5 separate regions of the Homo sapiens genome follow, and regions 1, 2, 4 and 5 are each linked to region 3. Evidence: fine-mapped expression QTL. A gene starts in region 3. Each other region holds a variant in brackets. All regions are shown on one strand. Distances are from middle to middle. Region 1 overlaps APTR (Alu-mediated CDKN1A/p21 transcriptional regulator). Region 2 overlaps PTPN12 (protein tyrosine phosphatase non-receptor type 12). Region 3 holds the start of PTPN12 (protein tyrosine phosphatase non-receptor type 12). Region 4 has its middle 46 kb from the start of PTPN12. Region 5 has its middle 33 kb from the start of PTPN12.

The links.
Region 1: its variant is fine-mapped to the expression of PTPN12 in whole blood (INTERVAL, PIP 0.90).
Region 2: its variant is fine-mapped to the expression of PTPN12 in whole blood (INTERVAL, PIP 0.98).
Region 4: its variant is fine-mapped to the expression of PTPN12 in whole blood (INTERVAL, PIP above 0.99).
Region 5: its variant is fine-mapped to the expression of PTPN12 in whole blood (INTERVAL, PIP 0.97).

Annotation. Positions count from the first base shown.
Region 1 is chr7:77,666,421-77,671,526 of GRCh38, forward strand. The region is part of intron 1 of APTR (Alu-mediated CDKN1A/p21 transcriptional regulator); the gene reads right to left. Among named protein-coding and RNA genes, the nearest start is that of APTR, 27 kb to the right of the region's middle. The variant A/C (reference allele first, on the strand shown) is at 3,077.
Region 2 is chr7:77,564,237-77,569,342 of GRCh38, forward strand. All of the region lies in intron 1 of PTPN12 (protein tyrosine phosphatase non-receptor type 12), which reads left to right. Among named protein-coding and RNA genes, the nearest start is that of PTPN12, 29 kb to the left of the region's middle. The variant G/T (reference allele first, on the strand shown) is at 2,581.
Region 3 is chr7:77,534,596-77,539,701 of GRCh38, forward strand. PTPN12 (protein tyrosine phosphatase non-receptor type 12) reads left to right here and starts at 2,700. Exons shown (of 18, transcript NM_002835.4): 1 at 2,700-3,050. The coding sequence starts at 2,952. LOC124901681 (a long non-coding RNA gene) reads right to left here and starts at 2,354. Exons shown (of 3, transcript XR_007060395.1): 1 at 1,776-2,354; 2 at 1-1,686. RefSeq lists enhancers at 1,780-1,829, 2,000-2,219 and silencers at 2,290-2,589, 2,840-3,049, 3,190-3,239.
Region 4 is chr7:77,488,975-77,494,080 of GRCh38, forward strand. No RefSeq gene overlaps it. Among named protein-coding and RNA genes, the nearest start is that of PTPN12, 46 kb to the right of the region's middle. The variant TA/T (reference allele first, on the strand shown) is at 1,938.
Region 5 is chr7:77,502,039-77,507,144 of GRCh38, forward strand. No RefSeq gene overlaps it. Among named protein-coding and RNA genes, the nearest start is that of PTPN12, 33 kb to the right of the region's middle. The variant C/T (reference allele first, on the strand shown) is at 2,907.

The DNA.
Region 1 (5,106 bases), 130 kb after region 3:
TCCCAAGTAACTGGGATTACAGGCATGCACCACCAAGCCCGGCTAATTTTGTTTTTTTAGTAGAGACAGGGTTTCTCCATGTTGGTCAGTCTATTCTTGAACTCCCGACCTCAGGTGATCTGCTCGCCTTGGCCTCCCAAAGTGCTGGGATTATAGACGTGAGCCACTGCACCAGGCCATATTTCTTCTTTTTATTTTTATTTTTTTGAGACAGACTCTCACTTTATCGCCAGGCTGGAGTACAGTGGCTCGATCTCAGCTCACTGCAATCTCTGACTCCCTGGTTCAAGCGATTCTCCTTCCTAGGCCTCCTGAGTAGCTGGGATTACAGGCACGTGCCACCATGCCTGGCTAATTTTTGTGTTTTTAGTAGAGATGGCGTTTCACCACGTTGACCAGGATGGTCTTGATCTCCTGACCTCGTGATCCACCCACCTCGGCCTCCCAAAGTGCTGGGATTACAGCTGTGAGCCACCGTGCCCAGCCATTTTTTGGTATTTCTAGTAGAGACACGGTTTCACCAGGTTGGCCAGGCTGGTCTTGAACTCCTGACCTCAAGTGATCCACCTGCCTTGGCCTCCCAAAGTGCTGGGATTACAGATGTGAGCCACCACGCCCCGTCAGTCAGTATATATATATATTTTTTTAATCAAGGAAATTAACTGTGAGAATACAAGGATAAACAAACCAAGTAATGAATGTCTTCATCACTTTAGTTTTTGGTCATTAGCCAGCGTTTAATCTTTAATTATAAGTTGAGTTTCTGTTCCATGCAACTGAAAAAGATCTAACACAGGTGGAATAACTGAGGAAGACTTCATGGGAGCCATGGGATATAAAGCGGCAGGACAGAGGCAGAGTGTATGTCAAGGGGGAGGGCCTCCTTAGTTGTGACATAGGCATCATAATGAGCACAGTGAGAAGTCTGCCTTTGGATAATGACAATAATTTACACTGGCAGAGTTGTGTAGCAGGGGTCCCGATTTAAGTCTAAGCTCTGTTCCCTCTAGGACTCAGCCATGGGGGCGTCCATCTGGAACACTGGTGGAGTTAGTCCACCGGAGGATATATTCACATAAGGGACAAAATAGCCTTTTGGGAGTCAGAGCGCGTGCATTTGGTTTAAGGCAATGTGAAAAACCGTAAACAATCTCAGATTTCACCCAACTTACAAGCTAAAAAGTTCGCCTGGCACATGGATGCTGGCAGAAGATATCATAGTCCTGAGCCAGAATGAAGAGTTTCTTACTCACAGCAATAGCCATAGCAATAGCCAGAGTATCAGTTTTGTGGTTTGTTTTTGGCATTAGTTAGCAAAGTCCCAATTTCCATAGGGAGAGGCAAAGAAGGCCAGATGGCATCTGCCCTTGCAGTGGGCTGCTTTACAGAAGGGGAACCTTCAGCTTCAGGAGCCTGAATCTTTTATAGTGGCAATAAACTTGCTTGCCCTTTGCTCTGGAAAACCTTATTCCTATCCTCTAAGACTGTTTGCTCTACAAACATCCCTGAAGAGAGAGTCCTGAAAGAAGGGCAGTCAGTGCTTCACTCACCAGATGTGCAGAAATGCACAGAGATCATGAAGAATGATCTCTGCCTAGGCCAGTGTTTGAGTGAAAGGATAATTCCGAGGGTCTGTCCTGGTAACCTCTCACCCATTCTAGCTCATACAGATTCACACCAGAGTTCTAATTTAAGGGGGTTGTAATTTAAGGGGGCTGTGATAAAAAAGTAAAAACTAAAGGGACTGTTTCATTGAAATCCTGTTCCATCACTGAGAGTGCAAGAAATTAGTATCACTGGTATCATTTATTTTGACAAAGCTAATGAATGTGGCTTTGGTACCAAGAGGAGGCATTACCACATCTATAAGCACATTATCACAGTGGCCTGGACTGAAGAGGAGGAGAGTAGAAGATACCACCTCTTACTTAAAATGATACGTTCATGGATGCTTGTGATATTACAACATTAGCCTGAAGTTTAAGTTTCCAAGAAATAATTTTAAGTCTCTAAGGAATTTAGAATGATAAAGTTCCATCGGTACTTGATGACTTTTGGACTATCCTCAAAAAACCCAATCAAATTTCCATCAACGGTTAGTGATTTCTCAACTATCCCCAAATATCCCCAAATAATACTCTTTAATACAAATAGTATTAAAGGGCAGTTTCTTAATCTTTTTTCCACATTATCACAAAGAATGGATGATGTTTATCTGTATGATGTATTTCCATGGATGTACTCAAATTTGGGGAAAAAAGGAAAAAAAAAAAAACACCCTGCAACAATTTTATTAGTAAATGAAGAAAATAATACTACAAAATCATTTTGTTAAATATTCACTTAAGGCTGGGCATCATGGTGGCTCATGCCTATAAACCCAGCACTTTGGGAGGCCGAGGCAGGGGGATCACTTGAGCCCATGAGTTCGAGACTACCCTGGGCAACATAGTGAGACCCCATCTCTACAAAAATTAAAAATTAAAAAAATTATTCTGGTGTAATGGTAAGTGCTTGTAGTTCCAGCTACTAGGGAGGCTCAGGCGGGAGGATGCTTGAACCTGGGAAGTCTTGGCTGCAGTGAGCTCTGATAATGCCACTGCACTCCAGCCTGGGCAACAGAGTGAGACTGTTTCAAAAAAAGAAAAGCCTTGGGTCCAGTGGCTCACACCTATAATCCCAACTCTATGAGAGGCTAAGGTGGGAGGATCACTTAAGCCCAGGAGTTCAAGATCCGCCTAGGCAACAAGCGAGACACTGCCTCTATAAAACATAAAAAATTAGCTGGGCAGGCGTACACCTGCAGTCCCAGCTACTTGGGAAGCTGAAGTTGGGGGGGAGGATCACTTGAGCCCAGAAAGCTGTGGCTGCAGTGAGCTGTGTTCGCACCAATGCACTTCAACCAGGATGACAGAGTGAGACCCTGTCAAACAAAACAAAAAACAAAAAGAAAAACAAAAGATGTTCACTTAATGTTAAGAATTCAACAATAGTGAAATCAGTTATGTAAGAATTGCCAAAATGTAGCATATCTAATTTTTAAATATCATGATTTCTCCCCCAGCCTTTACTCACA[A/C]CACCAATAAAACAAGTACACATTATTTGAAAAGGCATAAAATTTATTGTTAAAAACATAAAATTGGTAGATTCCCTCCATGTTATTGATATAAGGAATATTTTCACTTTCCTTTGAGAGTTTTCACTTGGCTATCATAACTGTTAGGACCCTACTAACAATGTTCAGAGACTACTGTTTTTGTGTACTGTAGATGTTGATGCACTCATTCACAATTTTCTCTTCTGTGGGTATGGGTGAAGTTTCCTTTATTTATTGATTTTTTTAGAGATGGGGGTCTTGCTTTGTTGCCCATGCTGGAGTGCAGTGGCATGATCATACCTCACTGCTGTCCCGAACTCCTGGGCTCAAGCAATCCTCCCGCCCCATGGGTGAAGTTTTAAAAAGTGAATTTGAAATACAAAAGTAATTCAAAATGGCCATAAAAGTAGGCTGTGGTTTATGTATAACTCCCTGCATGGAACTCCTTTCTCTCTCAGGAAATTATATTGGAATGCATGTGAGAAAGTGATTTCTAAAATGCCTCATAATGGTCTGTGTGGGTATACATACATATACACAGATAAATAATTCAAAACTTTGGTACCTTATTGTAGATGTTTGTTCCTTGAACATCTTGCATACCAAGATAAATTATTTTGGATCACCTAATATCAAAAAGTGACATACCCAAACCAAACCAAAACAAAAAAACAAAATGTGGATAGGCATGGTAGCTGACGCCTGTAATCCCAGCACTTTTGGAGGCTGAGGTGGGAGAACTCAGGAGTTTAAGACCAGCCTGAGCAACATAGCAAGACCTCGTCTCTGCTAAAGAAAAAATAAAATGGGAGGTGGGGTGCCAGCCACAGTGGCTGATGCCTGTAATTCTGGCACTTTGGGAGGCCAAGGCAGGTGGATCACTTGAGGTCAGGAGTTCAAGACCAGCCTGACCAACATGGTGAAACCCCATCTCTAGTAAAGAAATACAAAATTAGCTGGGCATGGTGGCACACGCCTGTAATCCCAGCTACCTGGGAGGCTGCTTGAACCCAGGAGGCAGAGGTTGCAGTGAGATTGCACCATTGCCCTACAGCCTGGGCAACAAGAGCGAAACCCCGTCTCAAAAAAAAAAAAAAAAAAAAAAAAGAAACAAAAAAGTGACATACCAATGTGTTATTTCACTAATGTTGCAAGTGCTGAGCAAGAGGACATCTGAGCAGATGATGTTGATGAGGTATCCTCTGAATGTGAGATTTCCTAGGGTGAAGGTAAAACAAGCGCTAAGGGGACTTTTACATAGGTTAGGGTACTTACCTGTCTGGAAATACTGCAGTATCTGAGTGAAGAAGTTCAATGAGAAAATAATTGTTAAAGCTAGTCTAAATGCACCTTATGCCAACCATAGTTACCGTGAGAGTTATTGGGAACATCTATTTCTCCGTAACCAGGAGACAATTGGGAACTTGGCTTTTAGCACATTTTACTTTTTTTTTTTTTTTTTTTTTTTGAGACGGAGTCTTGTTCTGTCACCAGGTTGGAGTGCAGTGGCACGATCTTGGCTCACTGCAACCTCCAGCGGCTCACTGCAACTTCCGCCTTCCGGGTTCAAGCAATTCTCCCGCCTCAGCCTCCCAAGTAGTTGGGACTACAGGTTCATGCCACCAAGCCGGGCTTACTTTATTTTTTTTTTAAGTTAATTAATTTTTTTTTTTTTTTTTTTTACTAGAGACGGGGTCTCACCATGTTTTCCAGGCTGGTCTCAAACTCCTAGGCTCAAGTGATCCTCCCGCTTCAGTCTCCCAAGGTGCTGGGATTACAGGTGTGAGCCTGTGTGCCTGGCCACATTTTACTTTTCTTAGAGCATATTTAACACTTGGGTTTATATTTCACTATTTGTGTATCTTTCTCTCCTTCCTAGATTGTAACATCCCGAAGGGCACTGGTTGTGTATTTTTACTCTTAGAATCCCCCACAGTGCCTCACATCCAGTGTCCAGGTTTGTTTAGAATTTGGAACTGGGGAAGAACCAAGGAAGAGGCCCCAAAGAT
Region 2 (5,106 bases), 30 kb after region 3:
CAGTGTTACTTTGAGATAGTATAGTGTTACTTTGGCTGGTACTCTAATTTTACTGTATGCTGCTATTAATTTATATTTGGGGTTTTAAGAAATTTTGGTTTGGTTATCATGCAGTTTGTAGGGTTAAATTAATACTATTAAGATGGTGTGGTTTTTCTTACTGAGGACAGTTAAAATTTTCAAATATAAAGCCAGATGAATTTATTTATTTAACAATGGTTATTGAATGTGAACTATGTCCCAAACCTGCTACCGTTTAAAATTCAGATGAATTCTCCAGTAATTGCCTCAGAAATTTTCCGGAGCAATTAGGTAAAAGGAGTATGATTTTATGGGTTAGGTAGCCTTAATATTTTGCCACAGTATAACTCTTAAGCTTAAAGTAATTTCCATTTTTATTTACTATACAAAGTATAGTTTTAATATTTGTATATTCTTATATGCATATTTACTAAAAGTTGTGCCTTATGAAACTCATACTGTGTTTTGTTGTTGTTTTTTGTTGTCGTGTTTTTTTTTTTTTTTTTTTTTTTTTTTTTTGAGACGGAATCTCGCCCTTGTGCCAGGCTGGAGTGCAGTGGCACGATCTCAGCTCACTGCAACCTCCGCCTTACTGGTTTAAGTGATTCTCCTACCTCAGCCTTCCGAGTAGCTTGGATTACAGGCATGCGCCACCATGCCCAGCTAATTTTTGTATTTTTAGTAGAGATGGGGTTTCACCATGTTGGCCAGGATGGTCTCGATCTCCTGACTTCGTGATCTACCAGCCTTGGCCTCCCAAAGTGCTGGGATTAGAGGCATGAGCCACCGCACCCAGCTGAAACTCGTACTGTGTTTTAAGTGTTATAACATTGAGGAATTTGAGGCAGTGGTGTGTGGTCTAATAACAGAGCATGAGAGAGCTTCAGCTTTGATACTTAATTTCTATATATCCCATCTTATTCCGAAAGGAATTTCAGTTAGCTTAATTTCCATTTTAGTGCTGTTTCTTTTTGTGTTAATTTATTGTTTTCTTAATTGTGCTGATTTAAAATCCAGCCAACAAATTAATTTAACGCTTGTCTGTCTAAATGTATTTTCACTTCAAAGTCTCTTCAGTGAATATGAAGACAATTAGCTATATTTTTGCTAACAAGATTTGCTGATGGGGAGAAGAGCGAGATAAAGGAACAAATCAAGGATGAGTGTTAGGTTTTTGGCTTGAACTACTGTTGAATGGTGGTGGTTTTTGGCTTGAACTGCTGTTGAATGGTGGTGCTATTTGGGCATGTTTGTGATGCCCATTACACATCCAGTGGACAGGCCAATAGACAGCTCTTTGACTCTGGAGAGATTTAACAAACTTTAAACATTCTCAGGAGCTTAGATGAACAATGAACTGTTCCACTCTTTTAAGAACTTGAATCTTGACACACAAGTGGGTATCTTAAAGTCACATTGCATGTGATTTTGGAGGCTTTTGAGAATCCATTTATTGATTTAGGATTAGGGGAATACAAATTTAGTGTTTTAGGAAATTGTTTAAAGCAAAGTGAATATTAAACTCGAATTTTGTTTGTATCAAAAATTCTAAGTATTAAAAATGTTTCTCTGACTTGTCTGAGAAGGCTCAGTAAATAATTCTTCAATTTGTAATGAGAGTTTTGCTTTGCATTAGCTATTGGTCTATAAAGTCCAGTAAGATAGTCTAATCTCTGCCTTCAGTTTTATAGATTAGTGGACGAGACAGACAAGTACTGAAATACTTAAGAAATACTTTTCACAAGTGGCAATAGAACAATGTGTTATGGACTCATTGCAGAAGGCTGAGGAGCAGTAAAGGAGGGAAGGTTCAAGAAAGCCTTCAAAAAGGAAATAACACTTTAGCCAGAGCCCTACTCACCAGTAAGAGCAAAAATTGTGCAACTTTGATATTTAAGAAATGGAGGGTTACTGCTAGTCATAGTGGTGGTGAGTAATTCTATATGACTAAAGCATCAAACTCTAATAAGAGCATTATAAAAAGAGGCTAGAAAATTGGACAGGCAACATTCAACATATCTTATAATTAAAGATTTGGTAGTTTATGTTAGAGGTGATAGACACATAGGAGAGTTTTTAAATGTGGGAGTAAAATGGTCAGACTTGACTTTTTAGAACAGTAATAAAGGAGTGCAGTTATTTTTGGAATTCATTTATGTGACTTTTTAAAGACTTCTGGGGTAGGCTGGTGCAGTGGCTTATGGCTGTAATCCCATCACTTTGGGAGGCTAAGGTGGGCAGATGGCTTCAGTCCAGGAGTTCGAGACCAGCCTGGACAACGTGGCGAAACCCCATCTCTACAAAAAATACAATTAGCCAGGCGTGGCGGTGCGTGCCTATAGTCCCAGCTACTCGCTAAGGGACGCTGAGGTGGGAGAATCACCTGAGCCCAGGAGTTTAAGACTGCAGTGAGCTGTGATTGCACCACTGCATTCCAGCCTGGGCAACAGAGTGAGTCCCTGTCTCAATAAAGATCTTTAGGGTAGACTTAATTGCAAATGCTTTCTTAAAGGATTTGTTTGTTTTCTTAGCTTTTTTTTAAAAAGTCACACGATAAAG[G/T]GTGTGGTGGGTACCTATAACTTAATACGGACATCATTTAGCTATATTTTTGCCCAGTTAATACAGTAAATGATTAAAAATTCTTTCTTGCTTTAGGATTATATGAAATAATTAAATTATATAATAAATGAATTATTTTATTAATGTTTAGTGCTATTCTCATACAGTCTATGAATAAGGTTTCTTAGTATATTATGTTTCTCAATAATACAGAATTTTTTTGTTTCTTTCTTAGTAATAGCTTCATCAGAGACAATAGAATAGTGGTCGGGAAGTTAAAATGAAATTATATGTGTAGATAATTCTGTTTCATAGAGTTTAAATGAACTTTGGTGCTACTTCTATTCAGGAACTATTTAGACATTAATGTTGATGTGTTAAAAAAAAAAAAAAACCTGCTCTAGGCCAAATCAGATCTTAATCTGGTGGTAATTTTGTACCCACAGAGTTTATTGTTTAACAGGGCAAATTAGATGTATTCTCTTTATATATTTATCATAAGAGTAAGAAATGTAAGTGTTCTAAAAGTACATATAAAGGTAAAACAATTCAGAGGGGAAGATTATGTCTGGAGGAAGGGCATCAGAAACTCTGTAGGAGCTAGGGCTTAAAATTAAAAGATAAGTAAGCTTTGGAGGTGTGCAAGTGGGGAGACCACCAACAAGCAAAGAAAAAGCATACACAAAGACACAGAAAAATGATTATCATGGGATTTTTTTTAAAGTAGAATCTTAGCAACTTTTAAAAAGACAAATTATCAGGCAATTACCACCTCAGACCTACTGAATCAGAAACTACTGGGATGAGGCCCAGCAATGTGGCCCTCCAGGTGATTCTGAAGCACACTCAAATTTGACAAACTGCTTTGCAATTTCAGGCAGATAAATTGACCTGGAATATGCAACTCTTTCTGATCTTTGATCTAGGAAAGGTTTTAAAGAAATAAATCTGAAGTAACAACATTTAAAGAGTTCCAGTAATTAGTTCAATAATAATAGTTAACATTTATTGAGCCATTTTATGTACTAGACCTTTTGCTGAGTAAAGGTTATTATCTCAGTTTTATAGATGAGACACAGAGAGGTTAAATATGTTAATTGTCACACAGCTAAGAAAGTACCAGATCCAGAATTTTAATTTATGTAGCTTACTATAAAGCTGACATTTTTTGGTGGGAAATAAGTTCCAACTTGTAGATACCTTTTTAAAGTACAAAACAAAGTTTTTACTTGTTTTATGGACCACTTTTGTATCTCTGATGGGCATGAAAATTGCTAAGAACACTATTGTAGATTTTTATTTTAATAGAGCATTCTCCATTTTAAACTTTAATTATAGAAAGCATTTTAAGAAATGGCATGCTAGGCTTTAAGAAAACTGGATAAATGAAAATCCAAACTTAAATAAGATAAATATTTGGACGCAAAAGTTCTCAAGGTTCATTATGAGAAATGTAGTCATTTCACATAAAAGCTTTGTTTTGCACATTTCTCAATAATGTAATTTGTCATGTAAAAGAAGAAAAGTCTGGAGTGGGCCAGGCATGGTGGCTTACACTTGTATTCCCCAGCACTTTGGAATGTTGAGGCAGGAGGATTGCTGGAGCCCAGGAGTTCGAGACCAGCCTCCGCAACATACATGGGGAGACCCCAGCCCTACAAAAAATAGTAATAATAATTAGCTGGGCATGGTGACATGAGCCTGTGGTTCCAGCCACTTTGGAGGCTGAGGCAGGAGGATCATTTGAACATGGGAGTTTGAAGCTATGGTGAGCCATGATCATGCCACTGCATTCCAGTTTAGACAACAGAGTGAGACTCCGTCTGTGAATGAGTGAATGAATGAATGAAAAAGAAAAAGCTTAGAGTGATTGTACCAGGCATTCCTGAGGTACATTCACATTTTATAATTAAACTCAACCACTCTTTGTACTAAATTTTTTCTCGCTGACATTGACCTAAGATATATTCCTTTCCCCTCTGTGTTTCTGCAACTATTTAAGTTGATATCCTTCTCTAAGTCAGATTCAAAATAATATTTTGAAATGCACTGATACTATAAGTATCTAAAAATACATCTTTTCAGATGCTTAATCTTTGAGCAGAGAAAATACAAACATTCTAATTAAATGTGCAAGATGCGTATATAAGTAACCATGAGGATCTTTGTTAATATGGAGTAACGACATCATAAACAATCTTTTCTACTGTCCTTTTTTATTTACGTTCAATTTTTTGAACAGGCAATACAGTCATACAATCCAAAAGATATGAAAAGACATAATAGTAATGTCTCATTCTCATCCGTTTCCCTTAGGTACCCATTTCCCTTCCCCACAGACACATACTTTGTTAATAGTTTTTCTTCCAGAGATGATATATGCATATGTACAAGCAAATGCAAATGTTTTTATTTCTTTTTAACACCAGTAGTAATATATTACATATATACATACTGCACTGTGTATATAATGTACACTATTGTTTCCTGCTTTTTACATTTATACTTAATATGTATTTTTCAGAT
Region 3 (5,106 bases):
GTCTGCAATCCCGGCACCTCGGGAGGCCGAGGCTGGCGGATCACTCGCGGTTAGGAGCTGGAGACCAGCCCGGCCAACACAGCGAAACCCCGTTTCCACCAAAAAAATACGAAAACCAGTCAGGCGTGGCGGCGCGCGCCTGCAATTGCAGGCACTCCGCAGGCGGAGGCAGGAGAATCAGGCAGGGAGGCTCTTTTTTTTTTTTAGAGACAGAGTTTCGCTCTTGTTGCCCAGGCTGGAGTGCAATGGCGTGATCTCGCTCAATGCAACCTCCGCCTCCTGGGTTCAAGCAATTCTCCTGCCTCAGCCTCCTGACTAGCTGGGATTACAGGCATGCGTCACCACGCCCGGCTAATTTTTTGTATTTTTAGTAAAGACGGGGTTGGTTTCACCATATTGGCCAGGCTGGTCTTGAACTCCTGACCTCAGGTGATCCGCCCGCCTCGGCCTCCCAAAGGGTTGGGATTACAGGTGTGAACCATCGCGCCTGGCCTTTTTATTTTTATTTTTTGAGACAGACTCTCGCTCTTTCACCCAGGCTGGAGTGTGGTGGCACGACCTCGGCTCACTGCAATCTCCGCCTCTCAGGTTCAGGCGATTCTTCTGCCTCAGCCTCTGGAGTACCTGGGACTACAGGCGTGCACCACCACACCCGGCTTTGTATTTTTAGCAGAGACAGGGTTTCACCATATCGGCCAGGTTGGTCTCGAACTCCTGACCTCAAGTGATCCACCCAACTCGGCCTCCCGAAGTGCTAGGATTACAGGTGTGAGCCACTGCACCTGGTCTGAAGTGCATATTTCTGGAGTGGATGTATTAGTTGGATTATTTTAACAGAAATATTTTCCTTTTTTTGAAGAAGTAAATAAACTATATCCTGTTACACCTATTTTCTTTTCTTTTTTTTTTTTTTGAGACAGGGCCTCACTCCCGTCGCCCAGGTTGGGGTGCAATGGTGTGATCACAGCTCACTGCAACCTCCGCCTCCCGGGTTCAGGTGATCCTCCCATCTCGGCCTCCCAAAGTGCTGGGATTACAGGCGTGAGCCACCGCGCCCGGCCTACACCTATTTTCTTCAATGAGTTTTTCACTAAATTCCATAGTGCTCCTAACTTTCATCTGAGAAAGTATTCTACCACTGATATTTCCTATTATAACCAAATTCGCTGACCAATCTGCTCTGTAAAAAAAGGTTTGTGGGTATAAATGACGAAAGTCAGTTCATGGATCAAATCCTTCAGTTCTGTCACATTGTGAGAGGCCACTGTTGTGAAAGTAAAATAACTTCTAGTTACGGCTCTGCTAAGAATACGCTGGGGGATGTCAGGAAGTCGCTTTATTTGTAAAATGATGAGTTAGACCAGAATATATTCTCTGATAGAAGTTTACAAAGATGAATAAAGATTTATAGGCTAGGCGCGGTGGCTCACGCCTAAAATCCCAACACTTTCGGAAGCTGAGGATCCCTAGTGCACAGGAATTCGAGATCAGCCTGGGCAACCTGGTGAGACCCCCTTCTCTACCAAAAATAAATAAATAAATAAATAATAAATTTTTAAAATGTATTAGCTGGGCTTGGTGACGTAGTGAGGCAGGAGGATGCCTTGAGCCCAGGAGTTCAAGGCTGCAGCGAGCCGTGATCATAGCACTGCACTTTGGCATGGGAGATAGAGCAAGACCTTAGCTCTAAAAAAAAAAAAAAAAAAAAATTAATAGATTTATAAAGTCCATTCTATGGAGGAAAGTCTCTTATTCAGTTATGAACTGCTGCGAACCTAAAGGCAGGAAGGCAAATTCCCTTCAGTTCGGCAAACACGAAGACCCCACATTCGCGTCGTCTGTGAAGAAGGCACTCCGAACCTCAGGCGCTCACTCGCCAGGTTTAAGAGGATGAGCAAAGAATAAAAGTCCTCTCACCCAGGAAGCGTTTCGCTTCCCTTAGCTGGAGCCACGCTCCAAGGTGCCAAAGCCTAATTGCTGTCCACTCTCACCAATCCGTTAGCAAGATGAGCATCTACCTGCTGCGAACGTGGCGGTGACACTACTACAGCTCCCAGCCTGCCTCCCGCCCGCCCCCACTCCTGGACTCCACAGACCGTGACTTGTAGTCCCAGCCCACGGCTGGCGGCGGTGCGGGACTCCTGAAAACTGCTTTTCCTCCCTAGTAGGCGGTGAGACCGCAAATTCCATCAGAATCCTACTCTGACCCACTAGGGCTTGGCCCGCTCAGAGTCGCATTCCCTCCTCCAAATGAACCAACTCTCCTCCCAGCGATACTCCGACCTCTGAGCACCCCGGGCGGGGCCACGCCCCGGAAATGGAGTCAGGTCTCCAGGCCGCCCGCTGAAGTGCCTTCCAGCCACTCCAAGCGGGGCTGGGGCCGGCGGGGCGGGCTTGGGGGCGTGGCCGGGAGGCGGGCGGGGATGCATCTGCGGGCGCAGCGCTTGGGGCGGAGCCGCAGCGCGAGGCCGCGCATCTGGGTGGCGGCGGGGACGCGCCCGTGGGGAGAGGCGGCTGCGGCTGCGGCTGCGGCTGCTGGCGGGGGGTGGGGGGGAGGAGGAACCGGGAAGGGGGGGCAGGGCGAGCGGAGAGCTAGCTGTGTTCCTGAGGCGGCGGCGGCGGCGGCGGCGGCGGCGGCGTCTCCGACGGAGGAGGAGGGCGGGGAAGGAGGATGGAGCAAGCTGGGGGTTGGGGTTGGCGCTAGCGCAGCGGCTCGCCTGGTACTGTGGGAGAGCGGCGGCTGCTCCTGGAAGTTGTGGTGTCGGGAGCCCAGCCGGTGCCGCCGCAGCCGCCGCCTAGGGCGGTGGGGAGGAGGAGGGAGCCGCGGGGCTTGGCGGGGTCGGGAGGGAGGGACGTGCTGGGGGAACGAGCTGGGGAAGACGGAGCGGGCTCTGTGCCGGGCGGGCGGGCGGCGGGGGGGCCAGCGACCGCAGCCGGGGGGACGCGGGAGGATGGAGCAAGTGGAGATCCTGAGGAAATTCATCCAGAGGGTCCAGGCCATGAAGAGTCCTGACCACAATGGGGAGGACAACTTCGCCCGGGACTTCATGGTGAGTCTCTCCCCTCGCTGTCGCGTTTTCTTGCCGGCGCCGGAGCCCATCGCCGCCTCTCCCGGCCGGGCCGCCAGTGCTTTGTGTACCTCTGTGAGGAGAGGGGCGGAGGGGGCGCGCACCAGCCGGGTGAGCCGGGTGGTCTCGGAGGCCAGCGGGAGGCGAGAGCGCCTCCCCCCGTGGCCTCCTTTCTTCTCCCATGTTCGCGACCCCCGCGCGGGTTCCCGGGACGCGAAGGGAGCGGCCGCGCGGCCGAGCCCGCAGCCTGCACCGTGGCTCGCGACCACCTATTGTTTACCGGGCCGGGAGCCGTAGGCAAGTGAGGTGCAGGCCGGGGGGGGGGGCTCGCGTTTCCACACCTCCCCGCGCAGTTCGCTCCTCCCAGGAGGGTCGAGGCAAGGTATCTGGCTGTGACCGGGAGGAGTGCAGATCGTGGCTGACAGAGGAACGGGGGTATTGAGGTTGGCACTAACTCCTGGGATCCCTTTGCTCTAGCTGGTCTCAAAGCGGGCAGGGTAGGACTTAGGCCGTTTCTGGGGTCGCAGTCATGATCTCCAACGCTTGGGAAAGGATTGCCCATAAGGAATCTCATGGGTTTACCTAATTTCCATTTACCCGCGTCCCGCTTCTCCTCTCCTGAGGCCCAGGTTTGAGGTGGTCTTGGGGTCCGTGTGACTATAGGTTCAGGGGATAAGTGTGGGTGGGGGAATTATCCTGAAGGAAGCCAGCCGACTTCGGACTCCCCAGGGGATATTGCCGAAGGCGGAGGGGATGTGACTATCACTTCCTATCCGGGGTGGGGGTGGGGAACTTGGGAACAATAGTCCTGGTGGGGCGGAGGCGACGCTACGGGCCGAAGCCCTGAACTGGGAGATAACCTTCCCAGCGCCCCCCCGCCTCCGCCACCCCCTACTTTCCGCCCTCTGCTTGTGCAGGCAGTCTTGAGAGGAGGTGAAGGTTAAAAGTCTTGTTCATGAAATTGCTCTAGATACACTATTGCTTTAGCACACTGTGAGGGGGTCAGATCCGAAGGCGTGAGACCAGAAGTCGACTTCCTACGTTACCCACCCCCCCAACCCCCGCCCTTTTTATTTTTCTGCTGGACAATGTTCCCTCTAGGGTTGTTTCCCGGCTTAGGAGGCGGTGGTTGCGGCTGCTGCTCCTACGGATATTGCGCAAGACTGGGGCGTTGGAAACCCTGTAGGTCTGGGGAATGAAAAAGGAAGTGGGACTTTGGGAAGTGGTTGCTCCTTAGTCTTGGCGGGGGTTGGGAATGGGAAATAAGCTGGGGAAAATTTTTATCTTGGGTAAGGTACACCTCGAAGAATAATCACTTAATTCTGAAATCTGATTATGAGAAGGATACACAGTTAATGCCTGTAAAATGAATGGGCAGCAAACATTGGCTAGTTTTTATTTTTTGTTTAAAAAGTACAGTAGTTTTTATGGTGGAGGTGATATGACTTAGTAGTGAATACTTTTTCACGTTTTAAAGAGACTGGTCTAGTAAAGCTTTAGCGTTAAATTTTTAACAGCTTATAAAATAGGCCCTTGACCATACACAGTATTATACTAGCATCGTTGAGCTTTGTGATTCCCGCCTCCCCAGACCAATAATAGAGGACGGAAGTAAAGTTTTCTCAGTATCTTTTGAAGATTGAAAATATAAGTTAAATAATCTAACTTATTCCTTATTAAAAATAAAAATATTGCTTATATTTAAACATTTGCTCTTGATATTTAGCCTATGTATTTTTGAAAAATTACTTTTTGATCTGAAAGGGTTAAGGAAAACGGCATTTTCCCTTTTTACTATTGAGAGTTTTTATTGTCTTGGTATCTTTTGAATGGTGTCATTTACAGCAATTGGATGGAGTCCCTTTTTTACTACTTTCTAGCAAAAGTAGAAGAAAATACTTTGAATATTTAAGATGTTTAAAACTAGTTTTTTTGGGTTTTGTTGTTTGGTTGGTTGGTTGGTTGGTTTTTTTTTTGAGACGGAGTCTCGCTCTACGCTCTGTCGCCCCGGCTGGAGTGCAGCGGCGCAATCTCAGCT
Region 4 (5,106 bases), 46 kb before region 3:
CTATAATGCTTATAAAACATCACTGTTTTGTGTTACTGCCCCAGGAAGACACTGACTACAGCTGATGAGAAAGCCCCTATAGGAATTAAGGATGCCAAGGACAGAATAACTGTACTGGGATATGCTAATGCAGCACACAAACACATTGTAAACTTGCTGTGACAGGCAAAAGCTTATGTCTTCACTATTTTAAGGGAGTGGATTTCTTACCAGACTATTATTATGCTAACAAAAGTGCACAGATCACCAGGGACATATTTTCTGATTGGTGCTCCAATGTTTTGTACCAGAAGTTCATGCTCACTGCAGGGAAGCTAAACTGGAGGATGACTGCAAGATTTTGTTACACGTGACAACTGTTCTATTCACCCTCCTGCTGAAATTCTCATCAAAAATGTTTATGCCATCTACTTTCCCCAAAATGTGACTTTATTAATTCAACCATGTGGCCAGGGTATCCTTAGATCAATGAAGAGTAAATATAAAAACACTTTCCTGAACAGCATGCTAGCAGCAGTGACAAGAGGTGTGGGTGTGGAAGGTTTGCAAAAAGAGTTTAGCATGAAAGATGCCATACATGCTGTTGCCAATGCTTGGAAGACAATGACTAAAGATACAGTTTTGCATGCCTGCAACCTCTAACCTGTGACTATGTGCAGTGATGATGATGATGAACTAAGTAGTGACTTTGAAGGATTTCATATGTCAAGTGAGGAAAACATGAATGTCTGACCTTATATATGCAAAATAATAATATATATGCATCAGTAAGCTGGAAGAAGTAGATATCAAAGAAGCTTTTAACATTGATAATGAGCCTCCAGTTGTTCATTCATTGACCAATGGTGAAATAGCTGAAATTGTTCTGGATCAAGATGATCACAATAATAGTGACGATGAAGATGATGTCATTAACACCAAAGAAAAGGTGCCTATAGAAGACATGGGTAAAACGTGTGATGGATTATTGAAGGACTAGATCAGTGTACATTCATAATTGAACAAATCATGTCAGTTTATAAAATGAAAGAGAAAATTCTAAGACAAAAAACCATTGTTAATGAGACAGATAACTCTGGAGGAAATTTTCTAAAAAGCCATTTTGCAGATTGCCTCCCCATCCCTAGAACACCCACCTTCTGGTCCTTCAAGTGCTTCTGATGTTTCTTCTCACCTAAAAATAAATAAAATAAAATAAAATACCTGTACAGTGACTTTTTGTTTGTTTTGTTTTGTTTTTTGCTTTTTGTTTATTTGAGACAGAGTCTCACTCTGTCACCCAGACTGGAGTGCAGTGGTACGATCTTGACTCACTGCAGCCTCCGCCTCCTGGGTTCAAGTGATTCTCCTGCCTCAGCCTCCTGAGTAGCTGGGACTACAGGTGCGCACCACCACACCCTGCTAATTTTTGTATTTTTAATAAAGACAGGGTTTCACCATGTTGGCCAGGATGGTCTTGATCTCCTGACCTCGTGATCTGCCCACCTCTGCCTCCCAAAGTGCTGGGATTACAGGTGTGAGCCACTGCGCCCAGCATACAGTGACCTTTTAATGAAAACACAGCATCATAGGTGGAGACGGCAAGCATGCTGTTGTTTGTAGCTGCTGTTGTTTAGCAGCCAGTACAGATATTCTGGTGATGCAACTGTGCTGCTTTGTTATCCTGAACACATTATTTTTCAGTGTATTAATGGTAAGTCATTTTTTTTTACTGTTAAGTATTTATATGTGGATAAGTATAAGAAAATGATGGCTTTTTGGTAGCATATAAATTCAGAGTCAGGAACAATGGTGATGCCAAACAACCACATATTTCCACATGAGTGGCTGAGATGGTGACACCTTTGCTTTTGCATGGTTTAATGTATACAAACTTTGTTCATGCACAAAACTATTTAAAATATTGTGTAAAATTACCTTCAGGCCATATATATATA[TA/T]TTATACATACATATATATATATATATATGGTGTTTATGAAACATAAATTAATTTTGTGTTTAGACTGGGGTCCATCCCCAAAATATCCCTATTACGTATATGCAAATATTCAAAAATCTGAAAAAAATCAAAATCTGAAACATTTCTGGTCCTAAGCATTTTGGATAAGGGATATTCAACATGTAAAATCTATTTAAAATGTTGGGAGGCCGAGGTGGGCAGATCACCTGAGGTCAGGAGTTCAAGACCAGCCTGGCCAACATGGTGAAACCCCGTCTCTACTAAAAATACAAAAATTAACAGGGCGTAGTGATGGGTGACTGTAATCCCAGCTACTTGGGAGGCTGAGGCAGGAGAATCACTTGAACCCGGGAGGCAGAGGTTGTAGTGAGCCGAGGTCACGCCACTGCACTCTAGCCTTGGAGACAGAGTGAGATTCTGTCTCAAAACAAAACAAAACAAAAAACAAACTATTAAAAATGTCCAGCATAATACCTCATACTGTCTCTCATAGGAGAGCCTCATTAAAGTTAATGTCATCCTTTTTGCTGACTGTCTTTGGAGAGGCTCCTCGTCTATTTCAAAGTAACATCACACAAAATTTACCACAAAAACAAGGGACAGGAGTTGAGAAAATTGTTAGGTTTATGCTTTGGGGTTAAATATAGGTCTTGCATTTCAACATTTTATTTTTCATCTTTTATTACCCATTATGATCAAAACTACCTGGCATGTACAAAACTATGGACTATGGAGTTAGATCCACATGCACTACCTGGCATGTATAAAACTATGGACTATAGAGTTAGCTGTCTGGGTTCCCAAAGCCAATGTTCAAAATAAATACATATGAACTTGACCAGAAGCACCTGCTTTTATCAGAAATACAAATGGCTGGTTTAAATAGCCAGATACATTTTATGAGAGTCTGAAACTTTTTCTGAATTTTTTTGGGGGGATGGAGTCTCGCTCTGTCACCAGGCTGGAGTGCAGTGGCGCGATCTCAGCTCACTGCAACCTCCGACCCCCTGGTTTAAGTAATTCTCCTGCCTCAGCCTCCCAAGTAGCTGGGATTACAGGCACACACCACCAGACCCAGCTAATTTTTGTATTTTTAGTAGAGATGGGGTTACACCATGTTGGCCAGGATGGTCTTGATCTCCTGACCTTGTGATCAGCCTTCCTCGGCCTCTCGAAGTGCTGGGAATACAGGCGTGAGCCACCGTGCCCGGCCTTTTTCTGGATATTTTAAATCCCTTGCCTATCATTATTTTAATTGTTTGTATTATTAACAATATAAAATGTTCTTCCCAAACTAGACTCATATAGTTTTCTTTTTTTAATTTAGACAACAAATATTTACTGAACAACTATAATATGAAAACAATGACAATAAAGATGAACATGGTATTTCCCTTTGAAGATCTCATTATGAACAAGCATTCAAAAAAAAAAAGGAAAGATCATTTTGTGACCAATTATTGTGACCAATTATTTTGGAGTTAGGATGTGTGTTTAAGGGAATAACCTGTGTGACTAATTTTGAGATGAGCAGTTAGGGAAAATGCGACTATAATTCATCCCTATAACTTTACAAACTGCGTTTATTCCTGTTGCATCTTACAATGAATGCTGTGCAGTTCCTTCTATCTGACAAGCATGGATGGATACTAGTCAAACATGCATTCACTCCAAATACAGCTTGCTAGTTACAGAAATAATTTTAAATAATAATTTAGAAAACATACAAGTGAGTACTACACTTCACAAAAAATCTTTCTCAATAGATATCTGAATAAATAGTAAAAAAAAAAAAAAACCTGCCCCAAAGTAATTTATGTTTTCAAAACAAAATAATAATGTTTTAAAGTGCTAAAACAAAGAGACAAATTAAAGAAGAGACTTCATGGAACGCTCAAGCTGTCTATTAGAATCTCTGCAGGAAGAGTCATTCTACTGAAATGGTAACCTAAGCTATCCCACAAAATTCTCATTTTCACTACCATGTTTTAATTTTCTCCATAAAATTTACCACAGTTGTCATAATACATATGGCAGCTGATATGGTTTGACTGTGCCCCCACCCAAATCTCATCTTGTATTGTAACTCCCACAATTCCAATGTGTTGCAGGAGGAACCCGGTGGGAAGTAATTGAATCATGGGGGCAGGTCTTTCCCATGCTGTTCTCGTGATAGTGAATAAGTCTCACAAGATCTGATGGCTTTAAAAATGGGACTTTGCCTGCACAAGTTTTCTCTTTGCCTGCTGCCATCCACTTAAGATGTGACTTGCTCCTCCTTGCCTTCCACCATGATTGTGAGGCATCCCCAGCCATCTGGAACTCTAAGTCCAATAAGCCTCTTTCTTTTGTAAATTGCCCAGTCTCGGGTATATCTTTATCAGCAGCATGAAAATGGACTAATAAGGTAAGTTGGTACCAGTAGACTGGGGTGCTGCTGAAAAGATACCTGAAAATGTGGAAGCAACTTTGGAACTGGGTAATAGGCAGAGGTTGGAAAAGTTTGGAGGGCTCAGAAGAAGACAGGAAAATGTGGGAAAGTTTTGAACTCCCTAGAGACTTGTTGAATGGCTTTGACCAAAATGCTGATAATGACATGGACAATAAAATCCAGACTGAGGTGGTCTCAGATGGAGGTGAAGAATTTGTTGGGTACTGGAGCAAAGGTGACTTTTGTTATGTTTTGGCAAAGAGACTGGCAGCATTTTGCCCCTGCCCTAGAGATTTGTGGAACTTTGAACTCAAGAGAGATGATTTAGGGTATGTGGCAGAAGAAATTTCAAAGCAGCAAAGCATTCAAGAGGTGACTTGAGTGCTGTTAAAGGCATTTAGTTTTATAAGGGAAGCAGAGCATAAACGTTGAGAAAATTTGCAGCCTGACAATATGAAAGAAAAGAAAATCCTATTTTCTGAGGAGAAATTCAAGCCAGCTGCAGAAATTTGCATAAGTAACAAGGAGCTGAATGTTATTCCCCAAGACAATGGGGAAAATGTCTCCGGGGCATGTCAGACGTCTTCGTGGCAGCCCCTCCCATCACAGGCCTGGAGATCTAGGAGGAAAAAGTGGTTTCATAGGCTGGGCCCAGGGTCCCCATGCTGTGTGCAGCCTAGGGACTTTGTGCCCTGTGTCCCAGCTGCTCCAGCCG
Region 5 (5,106 bases), 33 kb before region 3:
AGTAGCCCAAACACAGCTTGTGCAGCCTCTACCTCCCAGGCTCAAGTGATCCTCCCACCTCAGCCTCTCAAGTAGCTGGGACTGCAGGTGTGCACCACCATGCCTGGCTACTTTAAAAAAATTTTTTTTTTTTTGTAGAAGCAGGGTTTCCCTATTTTGCCCGGGTTGGTTTCGAATTCCTGGGCTCCTTCCTCAACTTCCCAAAGTGTTGGGATTACAGGCATTAGACACCATGCTCAGCCTTTACATTCTTTAAAAAACTATTTATAATGAGTGTATTTTACTTTATTTCGTTCATTGAAAATATATGTAGAAAGCGAATGACCACTGGCATGACTGAGCTGGGTGTGGTGGTGTGCAACTGTAGTCCCAGCTACTCAGGAGGCTGAGACAGGAGAATTGCTTGAACCCAGGAGGCGGAGGTTGCAGTGAGCTGAGATCGCCCCACTGCGCTCCAGCCTGGGCGACAGCAAGACTTCGTCTAAAAAAAAAAAAAAAAAAAAAAAAACCGCGATATGATCTGTGATTGCACACAAGCACACTGTTTTTATCTAAGTAAATCTGAAGTGATTTGGGGGGGGGGATTCCAATAGATTTTAGGGTCTTCAAGTTTTATTACATAGCAAGCTCATTTCTATTTAGATAGTGTGTTTACTTATTTAGACGGTATTATGTTTAATATGGCTGGGTGAGGGCTGACAGTAGGAAGGCCTCCTCCAGCCACTCCTTGGCACTACCTGTTTCATCACTTTGGGCAAATTATTTTAACCTCTTGAAGCCTCAGTTTCCTCATCTGTAAAATGATGTTAGACTACGTAATTTTAAGAACTTTTGCCCAGCTTTCAGATTCTATAATTCTGGTATTTTGTGACATCCAAAACTCAAATGAGGAAAACATTAGTTAGAGGGGCATGGTTATTAATTGTGATTTGTGACTGCACTTTACATAAACTCTGGATTTAAAAGATGCTATTAATTTTACATTTCCATTAACAGAAGGGAATACTGTTGTGAATTATCCAGAATAGCATAATTTAAAAGTCATTTATAGTTAGCTTTAGCATATCTTAAAGTATCAGATGATTTCTGAGCAAATATAATAATTTTTATTATGTTTTAATATTAAAATGATTCTCCATTCTCTAAGTGACATTTGTAGGCAATATGATAAACCTGTAAATGTTTTGAATAAAATTAAAAAATGTAGAAAGCTAAAAGTTGACTTAACCTAGAAATGTTACCAAAAATTGCAAATACCTTGTTCAGTGTTGAAACACAACTGTGAATATGTAGGCAGCACTTCACGGTGATTAACAGCATCAATGTTACTGTCAGACAGACCTGAAGCTACCTCATGTAAGTTATCTAAGCTCTTTGAATTTTAGTTGCCATATCTATAAAATGGGACTGAAACATTGTACCTATTTTGTAGGAGGTGATTTGTAACAGGTGATTTGAAAATTAAATTAAATTAAATTATAAGGCTAGGTGCAGTGGCTCACCCCTGTAACCTCAGCAATTTGGGAGGCTGAGGTGGGCAGTTCACCTGAGGTTGGGAGTTGGAGACCAGCCTGGCCAACATGGTGAAACCCTGTCTCTACTAAAAATACAAAAATTAGCCAGGCGCAGTGGCATGCACCTGTAGTCCTAGCTGCTTGGGAGGCTGAGGCAGGAGAATCGCTTGAACCTGGGAGGCAGAGGCTACAGAGAGCTGAGATCCCATCATTTCACTCCAGCCTGGGCAACAGAGCGAGACTCTGCCTCAAATAATAAATAAATAAATGAGATAATATAAGGAAAGCACCCAGTACAGTGTTTGACATATGTTTGCTCAAAACAGCTGATTTCTTTCTCTCTTTTTTTTTTTGTCCTTAAACACAGTATTTACTCGACTCTTCACTTACAAATAATATACTGGTATATTATTTAGTATATGTTGTAAATCGAAGGTATCATAGGCTTTATGATTAACAGTTCAAATTCTAAAATTTAAATGCCTGTGTCTAAATGTCAACTCTGCCACTTGCATGCTATGTGACCTTGGATATCTGTAAATCAGAATGAATGATAATTAATTTATAGAGTTGTTATATGTATTAATTCAAATGAAATAATGCATATAAAGGATCAAAAATGTTAGCTACTATTACCATTCATTAACTATAGAAATCAGTCATCTAACATTGCATTTAGTGGCAGACCAACATACAAGAGAACATTGTTCTCTTTCTACTTCTTCACCACTCCTGTCTTATTTTGGTCTGCAAAATATCCTAAGGTGGAGGTACATCTTCATTAGGCCATGGGATCCTTTCTTTGATGGGACTTTAACAAGCATCTTTGAAGAAACACTCATGAAACTAAGTTTATAACAATGACTTTTTTTGTTAAGTGATGAACCCAGCAATATCTGTTTGCTGCCTTTTAAAAAAGTCTAATGAGCTTACCTGTAGCAAATAAAAACACAAAGAGCTGACCCAAGGACATTGAAGGCAACTTCTCAACAGGAAAATCTAGACAAAAATTATTATTATTATTATTATTATTATTTTTGAGACAGGGTCTCACTGTTGCACAGGCTGGAGTACAGGGGTGCGATCTTGGCTTATTGCATTCTCTGCTTCCCAGGCTCGGGTGATTCTTCCACCTCAGCCTCCCCAGTAGCTGGGACTACAGGCAAGCACCACACAATCAGCTAGTTTTAAAAAAATTTTTTTTACAGAGATGAGGTTTCACCACGTTGGCCAGGCTGGTCTCAAACTCCTGGACTCACGCAGTCCGCCTGCCTCAGCCTCCCAAAATGCTGGGATTACAGGCGTGAGCCACTGCTCCGGCCTCACTCTAATTAATTTTAAAACCTCATCACATTGGCAGCATTCTTTTTCAAAAATGATAACCTTTGTGTA[C/T]GCCCAATGCAGAATAATCCATTCATTTGTAATTACTTTCTTAAAAACCTGTATTATGTTAGTAGATTCCTACCCATTCTTCAAAGCACAGCTAAGATAATATCTCCCCTGTGAGACTGGCACCAATATTTCTTCCATTTCCCAGAAAGAACTAGTCCCTCCCTCCATTTTTACTTAAATGGTAACTCAGAATTAGCAGTATTTATTTATACAGCACTTAACATCAACAATCATTTCCTTGTTTGTTTGTTTTCTCCTGTTGGAATGGAGCTTACAAAGGATGTCTTATTCTGCAGAATATTCTTTGTATTTAGTTTTGGTCCAACTGATTTCTATTTTGTGCTTGGCCTGCCCTCCTTTGTAGAGTCTATGCTTTTCCCATTTGGGACATCTTTCCCTTTTTTGAAAGAAAGATTGAAACTACAACTTGGCTTCTTGAGTCTGTCAACTACATGGCTTATTTATTCATTTTCTTAACTCAACTTGCTTCTTAGCACACATTTATTTTAGATGGTGACCTTTATTTTTTTTATTTTTATTTTTATTTTTTGAGACAGGGTCTTGTTCTGTTGCCCAGGCTGGAGTGCAGTGGTGTCGCAGCTCACTGCAGCCCCGACCTCCTGGGCTCAAGCAATCTTCCCACCTCAGCCTCCTTGAGTAGCTAGGACTACAGGCATATGCCACCATGCCTGGCTAATTTTTTTATTTTTAATTTTTTTGTAGAGATGGGTTTCTTTCTGCTGCCCAGGCTGTTCTCAAATTCCTGGGCTCAGGCAACCCACCCACTACAGCCTCCCAAAGTGCTGGGATTGCAACTGTGAGCCACCACGCCTGGACTGATGGTGACATTTTTAAAAGCCTCTTGGCTTTCTTTAGTTTGGAAATTGAGGAAGAGATGGTTAGTTGACTCTTTACACCCTCCCTCGTATGACAATAGAAACTCCAATTTTCAGTGAGCAATTGATGACCCAAGGAAAAGACTGCTTTTCTCAGCAACTCCTGCAAATGAGTATGACCCTGTAACTAATTTATTGCCAATGATAGATGCGTGTCAATGCCCTCCACCCAAAAATCACAGGAGTATGCTAGTGGTTGAATAAGGTGGGTTTACTCCTTGTTATGAGAGAGAACATGCACCATGGGGAACTATGGGTGTCTCAGTAAAAAGAGTATTAGAAAGGCTTTAAATAAGATTTGCCTTGCTTTAGGTGGTTTTAGGAAGGGCTGAAGGAACCAGGGCTTTACTCTGGATTGGATGCCATCAGGAAGCAAGGGCAATTCTATGACTGGGTATATTAAAACATTGTCGGGGAAATGAAACATAGTCAAAGCTGTAATTGGTAACAAACCATATTAGGCAAAATAGGGAGATGTTTGGTCACTTTACAGTTTGGACAATGTTCATGTTTTTGTCTGTATTCAGGCATAATTATGGTGTAGTTTTGTGTTTATATCGATCCATCATGGTCACAGAATGGCTTTGTCAAATGTTGGTATTCTTTGCAATTGCATATATTTAATAGGACAACACCAAGTTTTACTGTGACTGCTCGGGCAGCTCTTAGATGTCAGGTGCTGTTTTTCTCATTCATTTTTTGAGACAGCATCTCCCTCTGTCACCCAGGCTGGAGTGCAGTGGCACACTCACAGCTCACTGCAGCCTCGACCTCCTGGGCTCAAGTGATCCTCATACTTCAGCCTCCCTAGTAGCTGGGACTACAGGTGTGTGCCACTACACCCGGCTAATTTTTATATTTTTTGTAGAGACAAGGTTTCACTATGTTACCCAGGCTGGCCTTGAACTTCTGGGTTCAAGTGATCCAGTCACCTTGGCTTCCCAAAGTGCTGGGATAAGCATGGTGAGCCACTGTACCTGGCCATGCTTTTCTCTTTCTTATAGGTAAGCAAAGTATGGCAGTTCATGGAAACCGTCTTTATAAGAGAGCTGATGGGTCCTTTGCCCCCGATTATTCTTTTCTTCCTTCAGACAGACTGGAATATGGTTGTGATGGCTGGAGTAGCCCAGCTGAAACAAGAGGTGACCTTGGGAATGGAAGCTACAAGAGTACCAGGCCACCTCAGCTCTAGACTAAGCCATTGTTTTTTGTTTTTTTTTTTTTTTTTTTTTTTACTCACAGCTGAAGCTATTCCTGACTGATACAGGAATCTAGTGGTAAGTTCTTTTTTCAGTGGGTTTAAG